Regions from separate parts of the Homo sapiens genome. Here region 1 is linked to region 2. Evidence: fine-mapped expression QTL. Tissue or cell type: thyroid. Region 2 holds a variant in brackets; the other region holds the start of a gene. All regions are shown on one strand. Distances are from middle to middle. Region 1 holds the start of SH3GL2 (SH3 domain containing GRB2 like 2, endophilin A1). Region 2 overlaps SH3GL2 (SH3 domain containing GRB2 like 2, endophilin A1).

Region 1 (5,378 bases), 42 kb after region 2:
TTAGCTGAGCGTGGTAGTGCATGCCTATAATCCCAGCTACTCAGGAGGCTGAGGCAGGAGAATCGCCTGAACACAGGAGGCAGAGGTTGCAGTATGCTGAGATCACGCCATTGCACTCCTGCCTGGGCGACAAGAGTCAAACTTTGTCTCAAATGAATAAATAAATAAACAAACAAACAAACCCAGGCTATATTATCCAGCACATCAGTTCTCAAAAGGAAGTAATTCTAGGTCTAAAGCTTCTCTGTAGATAACATCAGGTTCACGGACCTGATGGAAAAAAATGGCTACAAAAGTAGGACAGGACTATTTCTCTAATTTTTTTGTCACATGCAAACATTAACATGGGCTTTACATACTCTCCTAAATATACATATGCACAGAACAGTCACCTGTGCCTTAGACTTTCTAAGAGTGTGCTACACTAAATTATGGATAAGAGACTACGTGCTGCTTCACCTTTCAAATAAAAGGCTTTTCAGTAAAAGGAAGACAATGACGCAGTGATTCTGCATTTGGATTCGGTGTGATAAACATTAACCGTATCGCATCACATGCCGACCTTCTCCAACCTTTTAAGTTCTTTCCTAACGCAGTTTAAATTATTTTTTCTACACTTTAGGGCGACACAGAACTTCAAGATTTAGCGGAAATGGAGCGCTCTATTTTTTAAGTTGGAAAAACTAAAAGGTCTAGCTTGGGTAACTTCTTCACAGCATAAGGGATAGTATTTTATACTAATAAAAATATCCTTTATGTCAATAACTATAATTTATTGAACACTTTATACGTGTGTTCTACACACTCGTTTCTCTTCACCTCAACCCTGAAGAGACAACGGAAATTATCATCACTTCAGCATGGACAGGTTCAGAAGTTAAATACTCTCTCAAGGTCAGAAGCAGCAGAGGCAGGATTCAAACCTTAGCCTTTCCCACTCCAAAGCCAAGACTCTTAATTGCCTTTGAGGGCACTAAGCTTTGCAAAAGAAATCTTTAGAATCCAAGTGGAAAAAAGATGTGTTGGTAAACGCAGTGCTGAGATATGCTATAGAGAAGTGACCAGTAGAGCAATCAAAAAGGTTAGTAATATCGAAGAAGTCCTGCCACAGAATTCCTGGGCAGCACATATGCTTGGTTCTGTAAACCTGAAAGAACTTGCAGTATAAAGTTATTAGAAGCCTTCCAAACTACATCAACAAACAAATCACTTACTTTCATAAACATGTCTGGCAGAGAGGTCACAGATAACTCCAATTATAATAGAAAAGCAAAAATAATTACATTAAGAAACATTTTTACAGAAATAGTCTTACTTTTCTTGATTTCCTAAGTTGACAGGTATAATTGATTCTATAAAGGCAAGAATGTGTGATGAAGATGATGCAGATGCGTGCAAACACACACACGACGGGAATTACATGCTGCATCTGTCACCCTAAGTTAACCAAGGTTCTGTAAAACACAACCCTCACCTTTTCTGGATGTGGTTCATAACAAGGCTGCCACTGTGGTAGCCTAGGAAAAACCTCACTACTTCCGAGAAATTATGAGAAAGCTCGTTAATTAAGGCTAACCTATGAAAAACTATTTAACACCAAATCATGAAAAACATTTCGCGGTAAGTCATCAAAATCCTTAAAGATCCCATAAATTTGAACCTATTTCAGAAGGATAAAAAAGTAGTAATCACACACATTATGTAAGAAATAGGTCACAGCGTAAGTATTCGCTTACTTGCCCCTATGTAAAATTCTTTGAGTCCAATGATTTTAATTATTAGAATCTAAATTAATCAGTTTTATTACAGTCACAGCTTATTAACCCCATAAAGAAAAATGGGCACATCCAAGATGCCAAAGATTTATTAAAAACAATTTAAAATACATGATGATTTTAAGTCTTCAACAATTTGGTTGTTTTAGGGAAATATTTAAGACCCGCAGACTGTTTGTCATGCCCTGGCCTCAAAGGAGTTTCACGACCGAGTTCTCCAGGTAAAAGTTAATGTATGCGGGTCCCTAAAGGAAGACCCCAGCCTTCCATTCCCCTGGAGCCTGCGGGCGGCGGGGAAGGAGGGTTCTGACAACAGGGTAAGGGAGAGGAGCGCAAACCGCCGGCCTCCGCCCCGCCACCCCCAGTGCGGCCACCGCTCATGCCAACACATCCCGGGAAAGCCGGGTGCACCGACTCCGCAAGGTCACCCGTGAAGAGGCGACTTTACATAATCTCCCACCGCGCCGCCAAGGCACCTGCGCGCCGCGGCAGCAGTGCAGCCGCGGTCCCCTTCCTGCAGCACGGGCGCGAGATGATGCGGGGGCGGCGAGCAGCGCTACCAGGCAGGACGCCGGGGACCCGCGGGAAGGCAGCGCGCACCAAGCCGGGGGCGGGGGACCGAGGGTGGACGCCCAGACCGGGGATGCCCCGAGCCGCCGCCTTGGCTTGCGAGGCGGGGCGCGGCCGGCGCGGGCGAGGCTCGGTGCCGAACTCCCCAAGCTGCCGCCGGACGGCCAGCGCCGAGCGCGCCCCTCGCAGCTTCGCCCCGGACTGCCCCGGGACGCACCTGCCGCGCGCCTTACCTGAGTGGCTTTATGGAACTGCTTCTTGAGGCCGGCCACCGACATGGTGCAGGAGGCCGCGCTGGCGGCTGCTGTGCGGGAGGGAGGAGGCGGAGGGGGACTGGAGGGCCGAGCGGGGCGGCGCGCTCCCCTGGCCGCCTCTGGTCGTGCCGCCGCCGGGGCTATGGGCGCGAGGGCGCGGAGCCTAGCGGGACACGGGCTCTTGCGGAGAAACACTCTGACGTCAAGGGCGGGTGATGCGGCCTCTTAAAGGGGACGCGGGAAGCCCCGCCCCAAGCGCGGGAACGCCCAGGCAGGTGCTGTGGCGCGCGGTACCTGGATGCTGGCGCCAACTGCGGGGATGTGGCTCAGCGGCACCCGCTGGCGGATCCCTAGTCAGCGGGCCGAGGACGTCCTCCTGTCCCGGGGTTGGTGTTCCTGCCCCCGGGGGCTGCGGACGGGTCGCTGCAGATTGGCAGCCCAGGCACCCGCAGGACTCAGGTGACTTGCTGGGCTTCCAGGTAGCCGCGGCGGCGCTGCCTGCAGACGGCCCTCCTGCCCTTTGAGCCTGGCGTCTCTGCGCCGCAGCCTGAAAAAGACTGGCCTTCTATCTGGGCTAATGAATAAGTCATTGCTCCTTCTATGCCTTGCCCTGACTGGTGGGTCACAGAAAACATTTCTCTGCCCTGGTTTCAATATCCCTTAAGCCCATCTTACCTTAGGGAAAGTCACACACGCGTTTTCCCCCTTGTCTGATACAATTTAATGACTTAAAAAGAAGAACAGGAACCCTTAAGCCTGGACGGATAAATAGAATTGAAGTCTTACTACAAAACTAGCGTTCAATCCTCTGGTTACAGAAATGAAAAAGCCCAAATGTGATCTTGTTGTTATGCTTGTGGATTTAGGGTTTCCGGTCCGATAAAAATCAAAATATAATGTGAAAAAGCATGATACTAAGTTATATACAGATGCTTCATATGTAACCAAGGAGGTATGGCTGGCTAAAGTGAAACTAATAGATGACTTGGGAGCAGAGCAGCACTAAATGCCTTCTGTGCTCTGGTACTTAACCAAGTCTGGTTTTTCTAGGACTGAGGAGGTGGTCAGAAAGAACTTAGACGCTGTCCCCGTATGTGGACCAAAGTGATAAGAAGGAGAAGCCAAGATGGGAGAAATTGCCAAGGATGTGTAGAGACTGCAAGGCCAAATGGGAGTCCTAGAAATACTTTTTCTGTCTCCGCAACTCCTGCAGCCTGATAGGAGCCACAGACCCATCCCCACTCTTCTAGGCACTGCGGCTTGGGCACAGGGTGAACACCTGCTACAAAAGGGTCCTCCATCCGTAGAGCTACCAGTCATGGTCCTTCTTGATAATGTGAACTGACACACACAAAGGCAGAGTCAAGCAGTGGTGGGCACTGGAGCAGTAGAGCGCATGGACTAGGGACGCAGGCTGCAAAGGGAGGCAGATGAAAGGAGCTATTCTCCAGTGTGGTAGCCCTTACCACTGTTCATATACCTTTCCCTACATGGCAGAATTGCACTTTCCAAACCTCTTGTTAAGTGGAGGCATGGTTACAAGTTTTGACTAGAGGTTTAAGAGGAAAAGTGACTGTCACTTCTGCAGCAGCAATATGAGATGTATGAGATGCCGCAAAGCTTTCTTTTCCTCGGCCGCAATATTCTAGAAAGCTGTGGTCTGTCAGCCAGTATCCAGAGTGAGACTAAAGCAGTGCAGAGTCCCCACCTGACGTTCAATGGGCATGTAGCATCAGTGAGAAACCTGAGTAATTTTAATCCACTGAGGCTCCGGTTGTTAGGAATAAACTTTTTTCTCTATGTTTCCAATTTTTAAAAAGGCTACCCATTACTTGCATAATAGAAAAAAAAGTATTTTATAGTTAATTTTTACTACCAGGTCCCTGATCTGAACAATAAAGCATTTTCATAAGACAGGGCTTTGTTGAAGCTGCCAAAAGATAGAGCAATTGATCTACAAAGTGGAAGGGCCTGGGATGGATAGGAGCTCTGCTCTCTAACAGTGAAAGGTGTGAAATGGGGGCCTGAATTGCCTCCTTGGAACTTTGAATACTTAACTGAGCCCTACATTATAAAAAAGGCAGTTTCTATCTTTCCCTGGTTCTTCATCCACCAACCTGGAAGTCTCATGCTGCTTAACTTCAAAGAAACTACCTTGGGAGAAAAAAACTACTTAAGGGCATTACATTAAATCCTTTGGAAACCATTGATTTAGTCGCCCAGGCATCCTCTGCACCTCATCTTATATGGTTTGGCTGTGTCCCCACCCAAATCTCATCTTGAATTGTAACTCTCACAATTCCCACGTGTCGTGGGAGGAACCCAGTGGGAGTGATTGAATTATGGGGGTGGGTCTTTCCTACACTGTTCTCGTGGTAGTGAATGAGTCTTACAAGATCTGATGGTTTTAAAAACAGGAGTGTCTAGTTCAACCATTGTGGAAGTCAGTGTGGCGATTCCTCAGGGATCTAGAACTAGAAATACCATTTGACCCAGCCATCCCATTACTGGGTATATACCCAAAGGACTATAAATCATGCTGCTATAAAGACACATGCACACGTATGTTTATTGCGGCATTATTCACAATAGCAAAGACTTGGAACCAACCCAAATGTCCAACAATGATAGACTGGATTAAGAAAATGTGGCACATATACACCATGGAATACTATGCAGCCATAAAAAATGATGAGTTCATGTCCTTTGTAGGGACATGGATGAAATTGGAAATCATCATTCTCAGTAAACTATCGCAAGAACAAAAAACCAAACACCG
Region 2 (5,378 bases):
TAAATAGGGTTAAATATAAGAAAAGGTGAATTAGATAAATAAATGGACAGGTATTCTTTGTAATTTTTTTCTGTAAATTTGAAATGATTTCCAAGCAAAAAGAAAATGCAAACAAAAAACATATTGAACCTTCATTCTCCGATTACATTTTTCATGAAACATTGTCCAGTCTTAACTTTCAGAACATCAATCTCTTCTGGATTTCTCTCTGACTTGTCCTTCACAGGCAACCTTCTTCTTAATTCATTCCCTAAGATTGATAGGTCATTTTGTTCTCAGTCTACACACTACCCTATATAGAATCTAATTCCATTTGAACTACATACGTATACAACACCTAAGGCCACATATCCCACAACTCTACTTTCTGAACCTCGCCAGCTAGCTTCCCACAAGCTCCTCCTATGGACAGGACACATCTTCTACACCTGGCAACATTCAGACGTATCGTAGGGACCTTAGACACCAGAGACTAACTTCTCATCCCTCACCCTTAACCACTAAAGGGCCCACTCCGATGGAAGGACAAGGGGAAAGAACAGAACCAGGGCTTTATTTCACCCTTCCAAACAGTGAACTAAAGCAGAACGAATGCAAAGATAGGAAAGGGGAAGGGGAAGGGGAAGGGGAAGGGGAAGGGGAAGGGGAAGGGGAAGGAAAGGAAAGGAAAGGAAAGGAAAGGAAAGGAAAGGAAAGGAAAGGAAAGGAAACGAAAGGAAACGAAAGGAAAAGGGAGGGAGGAAGGGAAGGAAGAAGCAAGGAAGGAGCAGGTATAATTTCATTCTGCCATATTACAGCAAGCATAGTTCTTACTCTCAAAAACTGCGGCAGAGGATTGGCAGTCTTTGAGTCTTGGTTTTCATGCCCCAAGCACATACCCTGCCAACGGAGTGACCAAAAGGTGAGGCTCAGGATCCATTATTCTTTACTTACCGTGCCTGCTCTGACTTCCTCATTTTGAAATTAAGGACATCAAGAGCACCTACCTACCAGCCCACTTTCTCAGAGAATAAGACAAACCCAGGGTCACATGAGAAAACCACAGGTACTGTTCAATCCCAATTAATATTCTTCCACATTTTTTAATTGGTATCACTTTTTTTTTGGTCTTTGTAGAGGTATTAAAAGAATAAAGTTGTGGACACCTATGATGAAACATGAGTATCCCACAGGTGGCGCCGAATCTGGAAATAGGAGGTTCTTTGCTCACAAGTGGCCTGGACACCCAATTCTAGTGTCCTTATTTACTATGGAAGCATTTTTAATCATGCTGCCTCTTAAGAGATCCTCCCCCTTGGAAGAATGCTACTGAAATTATTCCCCTGCCCCTGGCAGGTTTCTGACTAAAAATTGGAAGCTATCCTCCCATTTAGACACTGCAGATGGCTTATTTGCATATTACGATTCTCCTAGTTGATGACTGTTTGGGGGGATTACGGGATGAAGCAGATGGGTGGACAAACTTTTTTTTAATGTACCACCCTGGCAAGTAACCAGGCTAATAAATAATCCCTAAATAATAAATTTTCAAAACAACTCCTAATGCATATTCATTAAAAGGTTACAAGCAACTGTTTATGAATGCAGAAATTTCCAAATGAAAAATAGGGAAATAGCCTGATTCTAGTTTTCCCAAAATTTACCTTTGGGAATAATCAAAAGAAGACAGATCTCCTGGCTCTGGAGGCAGAAATTAGCAACCTAAAGAACATTACACAAACTAGGAACATTCACTGTGGAAAACTGAGGCCAGAACAGTTATAAAAATTAAGGGTTGTAGAGCAACATTTTTATTGGGCAAAGTAGAAAAAGTCAAAAACTGCGGCACTTATGGCATACTGCAAGTGCAAAAGAGTTATCCTAGTTTTGCTCCCAAATCACCAGAAATTTTACAGTAAAATTTGTTTTTGTCCTGAGTGATCCATGTAATGGCTTTAACTCTCCACCACTTACCACATGAAGGCAGGTAATGTGCACACTGAAGAACACGCATCTTTTAGTGAGTCCTAGGTGCCCTCACAGCCATGAGCCAGGCTTTGGCACAAAAACTTCACCTCAAACTTGAAGTATCATCCTGACATCAATACTTTAAACAGAGTTAAAGAACATGATCTTGATCTCTCCTCTCTTATCTGATTATATCTGTAAAACTTCTTGGCAATATTCTGTATGAATCAGGCATTGATTCCAATAAAATAAAGACACAGGATACAAAGTCATCATATGATTGTGATCATGGGATATGTTACAAAAAGCAGGAATTGAATGAAGGTGCCACAAAAATCATCAGGACAATTCAACCCAATGGCTGATTAAGAGGCAGGTCTTGCACGTAGTTGCGGACATAAATTAGCACAGTCTTTCTAGAAGTTAATTTTGTGATATGTATGATTCGGAAATTGTAGTTCAGCTATACCTCCAAAGAAATAATCCTGCATATCAAAACTGTTTTATGCATAAAGACATTCATTGTAAAATTATCTACAATGAAGGAAAATGGCAACAATCTATACATTCACAGATTATTGATAACCCAAATCATGATACAACTACATTAGAAAGCTGTCTACAGGCATTGAAATTAGTCTTCAAAAGGGCATTAATATGACACAAATTTTACATGTTTTTCATACACGAAAACCACAGCAATCAACTGAAACTCTGTCAACATCTTTAAACGCTGGAAAACTTTCTCATGAACTACACATTATAAGTATTTTTTAAAAACTCATTTTCTGATAACTAAACTACCAGGGTATATTTGGTGAGCTTCAAAGCTACTGACTCCAAATATTTTGAAGATAATGCCCCTCTGCTTACCTCCCCCTTTCAGACCCCTCTGACATCACCAATCTAAAACATGCTCCTCATTCTTTCCTACTGTTCCTGGACTCACTGAAGGGCTCCATCATCTAGCAGGTCACTCATACCAAGATACCTAGGCTTTACCCTTGACTTCTCCCTCTCCCTCCACATTCAATCACCATGTCTGATAAATTCTATCTTGAAAAATCTTTCTGATGCCTCCATTTCTCTCCAATCCCATTGCTGGACTGCTTGACCAATTTGCTGGTGGCAAAAGCCACCAGTTTCTCATGCCCAGAGTACTGCACCAACCCTCTTCTGTCTGCCCTTCCAAACTAGCACAGTCAGTGGTTTGCCTTGGTTAGTAGTTGCATGTCTGCGAGCCCATTACTCATCTTCTCTGTGCTTCAGTCTCATCAGTTAAATGGATACAATAATAGTATCTACCTCATAGGGTTGTTGGGAGTAATAAATTAAGTAACATGCGTAAGCTGTTAAAACAGTGTCTGACACCTAAAAAGCACTGTGTAAGTATTTGCTATTTTTCCTTTTATA[C/A]ACTTGTTCCTCACTGGATACCCAGTGCAAAATGCAGTGTATGGTGCGTAGCAGATCCTCCATAAATGTTTACTGAATGGTTGTTTTAGGCATATACTGATCACATACCAGTAAGATTCAGGTCAGAGTATCTCTTAATGCTGCACTATCCTTATTTCTACCAGCTCTTCATAACAATGTGAAATGGAGCCTTGATTTAACTTCATGGGTTAATCTGAAAATAAAATGGCTCTAAAATTGAATTTTTTGAAATATAAAATTTTATAAAATCAGTTATTCCAACTACTTGTTTCCTGACCAATTTAAAAAAAATCATACTAAATTTCCAATCATCTGTCTGATTTTCTCAGAAAACTTCAAGATACTACATCACAGAATCAGAAATCAAAGGGAAAAGCATTTAACACTCCAGGCTGATGACAATGAATTCTAATGAGAGAATAAACTGGTACATTTCACAGTATATATGAAGAGTCTATTAAAAAGCCCCATTAAAACATTCTCTAAAGAAATAATCAGATATGGATAAGTATTTATACATAAATGTGTCCATGTCAATTTTCTATTGTGAAAAAATGGACAGAGCCTAAATGCCCAACAACAAAAGAATGTTTAAATAATTTATGGTTCACTCACTTATTTTATTTTATTTTTTTTTTGAGATGGAGTTTCACTCTTGTTGCCCAGGCTAGAGCGCAATGGTGACTCTTGGCTCACTGCAACCTCTGCCTCCCGGGTTCAAACGAATCTCCTGCCTCAGCCTCCCGAGTAGCTGGGATTACAGGTGCATGCCACCAAGCCCAGCTAATTTTTGTATTTTTAGTAGAGACGGGGTGTCATCATATTGGTCAGGCTGGTCTTGAACTCCTGACCTCAGGTAATCTGCCTGGCTCAGCCTCCCAAAGTGCTGGGATTACAGGCGTGAGCCACCATGCCCCACCTCACCTATTCTTTTAAATAGGTAGTCAGCCATTCAACAATCAGGTTTTTTGAAAATATTTAAGACAACAGGGGAAATTCTCAAATATAGTTGAGTAGGGAAGGCTGAAAGAAGGCTATAAGGAAATACATCCATGTACACACAGCAGCCCACTCCAGCTGTGGAGATGATGAATCACTTCCTTCTCTGTGCCAGAGTTCAAAGCCCAGCTCTGCCATCAACTAGGGGATCTTGAGCAAGTTACTATGCCACGGCTTCTGCACTTGTAAAGTAGGTATAATGGGATTCGTAAGATTAAATTAGTTACTGCACATAAAGTGCTGAGAATTGTATCTAGCGCACAGTTAAGTACCATACAGTTGGTTGATAATATTACTACTTTTTTGTACTTAAACTTTTCAAAATGATCTTATGTCATTTTTGGAATTTAAAAAAATCAATAAACGTTACTAAAAGCGCTGAATTTTTAAAAATAAGCCAACTTTGGACTTTTTCAGACGTTTCTCTCTTTCTCTCTCTCTCTTGCAAGGAGATGCTCTCCTCTCTCCTTTCTTCTATTAAACTTTCAACTCCTTAAACCACACACACACACACACACACACAAAATAAGCCAAATTTGGCAAAAATTTAGTTCAATATATAAGTTCACAATCTCTTCTCTGAAACCTTTGGGGACCAAAGTGTTTCCAAGTATAGAATGTTACAAACTTTAGAAGAGTGATACAGCATATTTACTAAATAAAGCCCCAAGCCAGGTCTAGGCCAGCACCCTACAGTCAAGCGCATTAACATTCACACAAAACCAGGTAAATAAAGACTATAAATACCTTTACATCAACACAGGCAAGGTTTTACTGCTAACTGAATTATGAAGAAACGTCACATTTTCCAGCGTTTTTTAAATTTCCAAACTATGAATAAGGGGTCATGAGTTTACTATTATCAAATGCTGGCACCATGGTGGCACCTCAGTCCAGAATGGCACATGGCTCACTTATGCTCCTCTCCATGTATGAAGAAAGTAACAATTTCCTAACTCTCCAACCCTGGTAGAATCCCATTAGAGAAGGGTATATCA

The links. PIP is the estimated chance that this variant, and not a neighbour inherited with it, causes the effect.
Region 1: SH3GL2 starts here. The variant in region 2 is fine-mapped to the expression of SH3GL2 in thyroid (GTEx, PIP 0.96).

What each region holds. Positions count from the first base shown.
Region 1 is chr9:17,576,488-17,581,865 of GRCh38, reverse strand. SH3GL2 (SH3 domain containing GRB2 like 2, endophilin A1) reads right to left here and starts at 2,800. Exons shown (of 9, transcript NM_003026.5): 1 at 2,579-2,800. The coding sequence starts at 2,623. RefSeq lists a silencer at 3,790-3,988.
Region 2 is chr9:17,618,319-17,623,696 of GRCh38, reverse strand. The region is part of intron 1 of SH3GL2 (SH3 domain containing GRB2 like 2, endophilin A1); the gene reads right to left. Among named protein-coding and RNA genes, the nearest start is that of SH3GL2, 42 kb to the right of the region's middle. The variant C/A (reference allele first, on the strand shown) is at 3,361.